Linked DNA regions of Homo sapiens. The protein of the gene in region 2 binds, or shares a complex with, the protein of the main gene of each other region. Links are inferred from orthologs where the notes say so. Each region holds a gene or a part of one and is shown on either strand. Other genes may lie near its edges. The genes, in order: F2 and F2RL2.

Region 1 (3,917 bases), on a different chromosome or scaffold from region 2:
CAGTAATTTTATAGCAGCCCAGGCTAAGATAGCCATTTCTGGGTATAAGAATGTCATATACTGAACAGGCCTGCAACTGTGAGTAAAAGTCTGCAAAGAGGCCGGGCAGTGGCTCATACCTGTAATCCCAGCACTTTGGGGGGCCGAGGCAGGTGGATCACCTGAGGTCAGCAGTTCGAGACCAGCCTGACCAACATGGTGAAACCCCATCTCTACTAAAAATACAAAATTAGCTGGGCGTGGTAGTGCATGCTTGTAATCCCTAGCATGCACTTGGGAGCTACTTGGGAGGCTGAGGCAGGAGAATCACTTGTACTCAGGAGGCCGAGGTTGCAGTGAGCTGAGATCACGCCACTGCACTCCTTTCTGGGTGACAGAGTGAGACTCCATCTCAAAAAAACAAAACAAAACAAAACAAAAACAAACAAAAAAACCCAACAGGTAGGTAGCAGTGGTTCACGCCTGTAATCCCCACTTTGGGAGGCTAAAGTGGGCAGATCACCTGAGGTCAGGAGTTCACGTCCAGCCTGGGCAACATGGTGAAACTCTGTCTCTACAAAAATACAAAAATTAGCCAGGCATGATGGCGGGTGCCTGTAGTTCCAGCTATTCGGGAGGCTGAGGCAGGAGAATCGCTTGAACCTAGGAGGTAGAGGTTGCAGTGAGCCGAGTTCACGCTATTGCACTCCAGCCTCCATCTCAAAAACAAAACAACAAAAACCCAAAATATATATTATAATTTTATTTTATTTATTCAATTTTATTTTATTTTATTTTATTTTTCTAGGAACAGGTCTCATTCAGGCCAGGCATGGTGGCTCACGCCTGTAATCCCAGCACTTGGGAGGCCGAGGTGGAGGTGGGCGGATCACCTGAGGTCAGGAGTTCGAGACCATCCTGGTCAATGTGGCGAAACCCCATCTCTACTAAAAATACAAAAATTAGCCAGGTGTGGTGGCACACGCCTGTAATTCCAGCTACTTGGGATACTGAGTCAGGAGAATCACTTGAACAGGGAGATGGAAATTGCAGTGAGCCGAGATTGTTCCACTGCACTCCAGCCTGGGTGACAGGGCGAGACTCCGTCTCAAAAAAAAAAAAAAAAAAGAAAGAAAGAAAGAAAGAAAGAAACAGGATCTTACTCTGTTACCCAGGCTGGAGTACAGTGGTGCAATCATAGCTCACTGCAGCCTGGAACTCCTGGGCTCAAGTGATCCTCCTGCCTCAGCCTCCTCAGTAGCTCAGACTGCAGGCATGCACCACCATTCCCAGCTAATTTTTAATTTTTTTTTGGTAGAGATGAGGGTCTTGCTATGTTGCCCAGGCTGGTCTCAAACTCCTGGCCTCAAGCGATCCTGCCATGTCGGCCTCCCAAAGTGTTGGGATTACAAGTGTGAGCCACTATGCCTGGCCTAAAAATATATATATGAAAATATATAAGAAATGGGCCTCCCAGGAATTAAGGTGTTTGCGGGAGTCCTGGTCCCCAGTTTTTCTGCCAACACTCCCTGTTCCCACACATGACCTGGTCCAGACCCCAAACAGCCAGGCCCAAAGGACAGGTGAGGCGAGGCGAGAACTTGTGCCTCCCCGTGTTCCTGCTCTTTGTCCCTCTGTCCTACTTAGACTAATATTTGCCTTGGGTACTGCAAACAGGAAATGGGGGAGGGACAGGAGTAGGGCGGAGGGTAGGGTAGGACCAGAAGCCTCTCTAGGCCTGCCATGGGGCAGGCAGCCAGGGAGAAGGAGGGCCCCTCAGTGGAGACCCAGGGATTTCAGTAGCCCCTGTTCCGGGACAGGCGCAGGTCCTGGGAGGTGACAGAAGATAGACTAAAGGCCCAAGAGTCCCTGGACCTGACTCCTCCCAGGCAGCTGCCACACACAAACACACCTCCAGGCACCCTGGACAGGAAGGAGGAGAAATGGGCCCCTCCTCCAGTGGCTGAGAAGCTGGGGCAAATGTTGGCTGTTCCTATCCCTGGTGCATCCCATGGCGAGGGGCAACTTCCATCAGGCCACACCTTTTATCTTTGTCTCTATTTTTGATATCTGTGTATTATGATTATACAAACCCCCACATTGGCCTATATGTGCAGATCTGATTAAGAACTTACGATATTCCATGGACATTCCATTCCTAATCTCCTTTAGTCCTCACAACAAAGTATTATTCCCATTGTATAGATGAGGAAACTGAGGCACACAGAGATGACAAGCAACCACCGCTATATGTTAGGATTCGAAGGAGCTCCAGGAAAGTCTCATAGCCCCACTGGCCAGAATGGGCTAAATCTCAGAGGGGGAGGGTGGGAGATGGGGGTGACAGTGACCTTTTTTGTGACTCCTCCTAGACCATCCATCCCTGCTCCCAGGAGGACCTGTCCTCCCAGATGGTGGAGATGGACAGGAGGACTATCTACCCACCCGTCCCCACGGCCCTGACCCTCTGACCTCACCCTCTCCGCTGATTTCTTCATGTTAGTTCAACATTAACCCAGAGGGGTCAGGACAGACAATTCCTCAGTGACCCAGGAGCTGACACACTATGGCGCACGTCCGAGGCTTGCAGCTGCCTGGCTGCCTGGCCCTGGCTGCCCTGTGTAGCCTTGTGCACAGCCAGCATGGTAAGGGAGTGCTTGCAGGCTGGAACAGGCTGGAGGACTGGGGTGTGGGCCCATGGGCTGGGGTCTCCTGGCTGGACAGAGCACACAGAGCTGGCCCCTAAGTAGGTCTCAGCCCCAGGCGGCCAGCTTAGGGAAGAAGTCAGGAGCTCAGGGCTGGAAAGAGAATGGCTGCTTCTCTCTTCCAATATAGGGAGCAGGCTGGGGGCAAGGGGCAGTGTAGGAGGGGCACAGGGGGCCACATTTAGCAGCCTTCCAGGCACTTCCACCAGCCCAGACAGCCTCTCTCAGAAGCCAGCAGGGGAGGGTGGGCTTGCTTCATGCCCCCAGAATGGCCAAGACTGCCTGTTCCTGAGGCCGCTGTCCCATGACCCCCCCACCGCCTTACAGTGTTCCTGGCTCCTCAGCAAGCACGGTCGCTGCTCCAGCGGGTCCGGCGAGCCAACACCTTCTTGGAGGAGGTGCGCAAGGGCAACCTGGAGCGAGAGTGCGTGGAGGAGACGTGCAGCTACGAGGAGGCCTTCGAGGCTCTGGAGTCCTCCACGGCTACGGTGAGCCTGGGCTGCTCGGACGGTGCCGGGGCCTCAGACCGGGCCCAACTCTAGACACTTCCACAGAGAAGCAAGCGAGGAACGCCACAGCCCCTTCGCTGCTCACAGCCTCATTTCAACTCTGAGCCCCTCCTCACAGGGCTGGCAAGAGGAGCGGCCTCAGCCTTTCCTGGGGGTCTCTGTGCCTGGACTGTGTCCCTGTGCAGCTCCATGACATGGGGAGGCCTCCACAGTCTTCAGACATCCACCTGCCCTGGAGCTCTGTGTCCACATGGCCTCCTCAGCGGCAGACTCCCACACCACCCTTGAGGGGTGGGACTCTGGGGAGGCCACCACAAGCCCCCGGGCTCAAGACTCAGTGTTCCTGGAGCTCTGTGTCGCCTTTCCTGTCTGTAGGGCTCTGCCAGGGTCCCACTGCCCCCTCTCCTCCCATCTCCCCCAGCCTCTTTCAGTCTCGGTGTGTGTGTTGGAGGAACTCCCCTATCCTCAAATATTCTTCTCCTTTTGGAAACAAAAGTAGGAAACTCTGCCACAAACCTCCCCAGAGCCTGCCCCCTGCGTGACCAGGGTAAAGGAAAGTGTGAGGAGGAGACATAACATTTACTAAAACAACACAAAACAGGAGCTGCCGTAGCCTCACTCCCAGCCCTTGTTTTTCAGGATGTGTTCTGGGCCAAGTACACAGGTGAGCACCGGGAAGGATTTGCCCCAGGAAGGGAGGCCTGGGGACCCCAGTGAGAGAATT
Region 2 (3,917 bases):
CCAACTCAGTTAATGGCATCCTCTCCCTCCAAGTCATCTAGAGTAGAAACCTGAGTCATTATTGCTTCCTGCCTCTCCCTCACTGCACCCCAAAGCCAATCAGAACCAAGTCCCTTTAAGCCGCCATCAGAGTCTCACGTGTTCGCCTCTGCCTTTCCATAACCACTGTTCTAGCTCAGTAACTCACTGAGCTATGAATGATGACAGTAGCCTCCAAATCAGGTCCCCTTGCCTGTAATTTCTTACCTTTCCAATCTGTTCTCTACACTATTACCTAAGTCATCTTAAAAACAAGTCAAAATAACGGCTATATTCGTTTCCTACTGCTGCTATATCAAATCATTACAAACTGAGTGGCTTAAAATAACAGATTATATTTCTGGAGATCAGAGGTCTTAAAATCAAGGCTGTTGGTGGGGTTGTGTTCATTCTCGAGGCTCTAGGAGAGAATCGGCTATCTTGCTTTTTTCAGCTTCTAGAATCTGCCTGCATTCCTTGGGTTATGACCCTTTCTTCCATCTTCAAAGCCAGCAGCATAGCATCTTCAAATCTCTGACTTTGACAACCCTCTTACCTTCCCCTTATATGGACTGTTATGATTATATTTGACCCACCCAGGCAATCCAGGAAAATCTCATTTTAAGATCCTTAACTGGCCGGGCGCGGTGGCTCACGCCTGTAATCCCAGCACTTTGGGTGGCCGAGGCGGGCAGATCACGAGGTCAGGAGATCGAGACCATCCTGGCTAACATGGTGAAACCCTGTCTCTACTAAAAAAATACAAAAAATTAGCCAGGCCTGGTGGCGGGCGCTTGTAGTCCCAGCTACTGGGGAGGCTGAGGCAGGAGAATGGCGTGAACCCGGGAGGCGGAGGTTGCAGTGAGCTGAGATCGTGCCACTGCACTCCAGCCTGGGCGACAGAGTGAGACTGTCTCAAAAAAAAAAAAAAAAAAAAAAGAAGATCCTTAACTAAGTTAGATCTGCAAAATCCCTTTTGCTAGGTAAAGGAATATACTTGTAGGTTCCAGGAATTAGCAGGTAGAATCTTTGCGGGGGGCTACTATTCTGCCTAACACAATGGTCATTCCTCTGTTCAAAATTGTGTGTGCAATCCCATCATCTGTGAATAGACATATGATTTCTTAGGACAGTTTAGAGGCCCTTCAGGAATTTAGCTGTCACCCACTCTTTCAATTTCCTTTCTCAGCTGCACTTTATTCGCATAAGACAATGCATTTTTATGCATCTTCTCCACGAGTAGCATTACTTACAGATAGAAATGGATTTTATTTAAAACTTTACACCACTGACACATCAATGTACAATAAAAATTTGCTAAATCAACTTATCTGGCATTCCCAGATCCCATGATAGCCCACACTATGCTTCTGTCCATTCATCACCAGCAGAATCTTACTCATTAAATTCCATCTTTTTAGGAACCTTGCTAGTCTTTGCTCAAGTTCATCTTTTCCTTGACATTTTGCTCAAACATCTGAATCTATTAAGTATTGTCTGAATGCCTGTATAGTTTGTAGTCAACATGCCTATAATGTTCTGATGGGCTGTTTTTGTTTCTTCTAATAGTATTATAAACACTTTACATACAAGGACTGATCATTTAGTTTTTGTTTCCGCACAAGATAGTGTTGTTCTGGGGCATATGATATGTATTAAATATATGCTTGTTGACTGCCTAATCTACAATAACTTTTTAAAATAAAAATGATCTTAAATTCTACAATCACAGAAATTATTTACAAATAATTAAACACACTTTCTTTTCTCTTGAACTATACATTTATGTTAATACTTTCTTTCAATTACAGGCATGGAAAATGATACAAACAACTTGGCAAAGCCAACCTTACCCATTAAGACCTTTCGTGGAGCTCCCCCAAATTCTTTTGAAGAGTTCCCCTTTTCTGCCTTGGAAGGCTGGACAGGAGCCACGATTACTGTAAAAATTAAGTGCCCTGAAGAAAGTGCTTCACATCTCCATGTGAAAAATGCTACCATGGGGTACCTGACCAGCTCCTTAAGTACTAAACTGATACCTGCCATCTACCTCCTGGTGTTTGTAGTTGGTGTCCCGGCCAATGCTGTGACCCTGTGGATGCTTTTCTTCAGGACCAGATCCATCTGTACCACTGTATTCTACACCAACCTGGCCATTGCAGATTTTCTTTTTTGTGTTACATTGCCCTTTAAGATAGCTTATCATCTCAATGGGAACAACTGGGTATTTGGAGAGGTCCTGTGCCGGGCCACCACAGTCATCTTCTATGGCAACATGTACTGCTCCATTCTGCTCCTTGCCTGCATCAGCATCAACCGCTACCTGGCCATCGTCCATCCTTTCACCTACCGGGGCCTGCCCAAGCACACCTATGCCTTGGTAACATGTGGACTGGTGTGGGCAACAGTTTTCTTATATATGCTGCCATTTTTCATACTGAAGCAGGAATATTATCTTGTTCAGCCAGACATCACCACCTGCCATGATGTTCACAACACTTGCGAGTCCTCATCTCCCTTCCAACTCTATTACTTCATCTCCTTGGCATTCTTTGGATTCTTAATTCCATTTGTGCTTATCATCTACTGCTATGCAGCCATCATCCGGACACTTAATGCATACGATCATAGATGGTTGTGGTATGTTAAGGCGAGTCTCCTCATCCTTGTGATTTTTACCATTTGCTTTGCTCCAAGCAATATTATTCTTATTATTCACCATGCTAACTACTACTACAACAACACTGATGGCTTATATTTTATATATCTCATAGCTTTGTGCCTGGGTAGTCTTAATAGTTGCTTAGATCCATTCCTTTATTTTCTCATGTCAAAAACCAGAAATCACTCCACTGCTTACCTTACAAAATAGTGAAATGATCTTAGAGAACAAGGACAGCCATCACAGAGAACGTCTGTTTTCAAGAACAACATAAGCATAGTGCAAGGAGCTCCATTTCCGAGCTCCTAAGAAATATGCTTCAAAGGTCAAACATTACAAAAGCATTAGTAGTTTGTTTGTTTGTTTTTGAGACTGAGTCTCACTTTATCACCCAGACTGGCGTGCAGTGGCACTATCTTGGCTCATTGCAACCTCTGCCTCCCAGGTCAGCCTCCCAAGTAGCTGGGATTACACCACCATGCCCAGCTACTAAAAATACTTGTATTTTTAGTAGAGACGGGGTTTCACCATGTTGACCAGGCTGGTCTTGAACTCCTGACCTCAAGTGATCTTCCGGCCTCAGCCTCCCAAAGTGCTGGATTACAGGCGTGAGCCACTGAGCCAGCCAGCATTAGTAATTTTTAAAAACACTTTATCAGTATTTTAAAAATGTTAATGCAGGAGAAAAGATATCACAACTCTATGGAAAATGACATTTCCATTTGCCTTATTGCTACTTCAAGCTCTTTAAATCACCATCTTCCCTATTTCTGTGAGTGGTATTGCCATCCTTGACATTTGACATCATTTTTTATTCTTTGGTCTCTTTTGACTCTCATGCTGGTGGCTGCCTCATCAACTGATTCTATCTTTGTAGGGTCCCTCACCAGGGTCTTTTATCTAGTTTCACCTTTGCCTTCTTTTTTCCTTTTTTTAATAGAGACAGTGTCTCGCTTCGTCACCTGGCTGAAGTGCAGTAGCCTGATCATAGCTCACTTCAGCCTCCAACTCCTGGGCTCAAGCAATCCTGCTGTCTCAGCCTCCCAAGTAACTAAGACTACAGGCATGCACCACCATACCCAACTAATTTTATTTTTTATTTTTTGCAGAGATGGAGTCTCACTGTTGCCCAGGCTGGTCTTGAACTCCTGGTCTCGAGTGATCTTCCTATCTCAGCCTCCCAAAGTGCTGGGACTACAGGCATGAGCCACTACGTCCAGGCCACCTCTACCTTCTA

The links.
Region 1: the proteins of F2RL2 (region 2) and F2 are in contact, whole or in part, in a crystal structure (PDB 2PUX), measured with the Mus musculus proteins. The link is inferred for Homo sapiens from one-to-one orthologs. Residues at the interface, in NP_034300.3 of Mus musculus: Thr46, Phe47, Glu48, Glu49, Phe50, Pro51, Asp54, Ile55, Glu56; in NP_034298.1 of Mus musculus: Phe379, Gln384, Glu385, Leu386, Leu420, Arg422, Arg428, Thr429, Arg430, Tyr431, Arg433, Lys437, Ile438, Ser439, Met440, Lys467, Pro470.

The regions. Positions count from the first base shown.
Region 1 is NC_000011.10:46,716,691-46,720,607, forward strand, and holds the start of F2 (prothrombin preproprotein), read left to right. Parts: upstream 1-2,522; 5' UTR 2,523-2,545; coding exon 2,546-2,624; intron 2,625-3,011; coding exon 3,012-3,172; intron 3,173-3,832; coding exon 3,833-3,857; intron 3,858-3,917. UniProt on the Homo sapiens protein: Thrombin, which cleaves bonds after Arg and Lys, converts fibrinogen to fibrin and activates factors V, VII, VIII, XIII, and, in complex with thrombomodulin, protein C. Functions in blood homeostasis, inflammation and wound healing.
Region 2 is NC_000005.10:76,616,555-76,620,471, reverse strand, and holds part of F2RL2 (proteinase-activated receptor 3 isoform 1 precursor), read left to right. Parts: intron 1-1,829; coding exon 1,830-2,890; 3' UTR 2,891-3,917. UniProt on the Homo sapiens protein: Receptor for activated thrombin coupled to G proteins that stimulate phosphoinositide hydrolysis.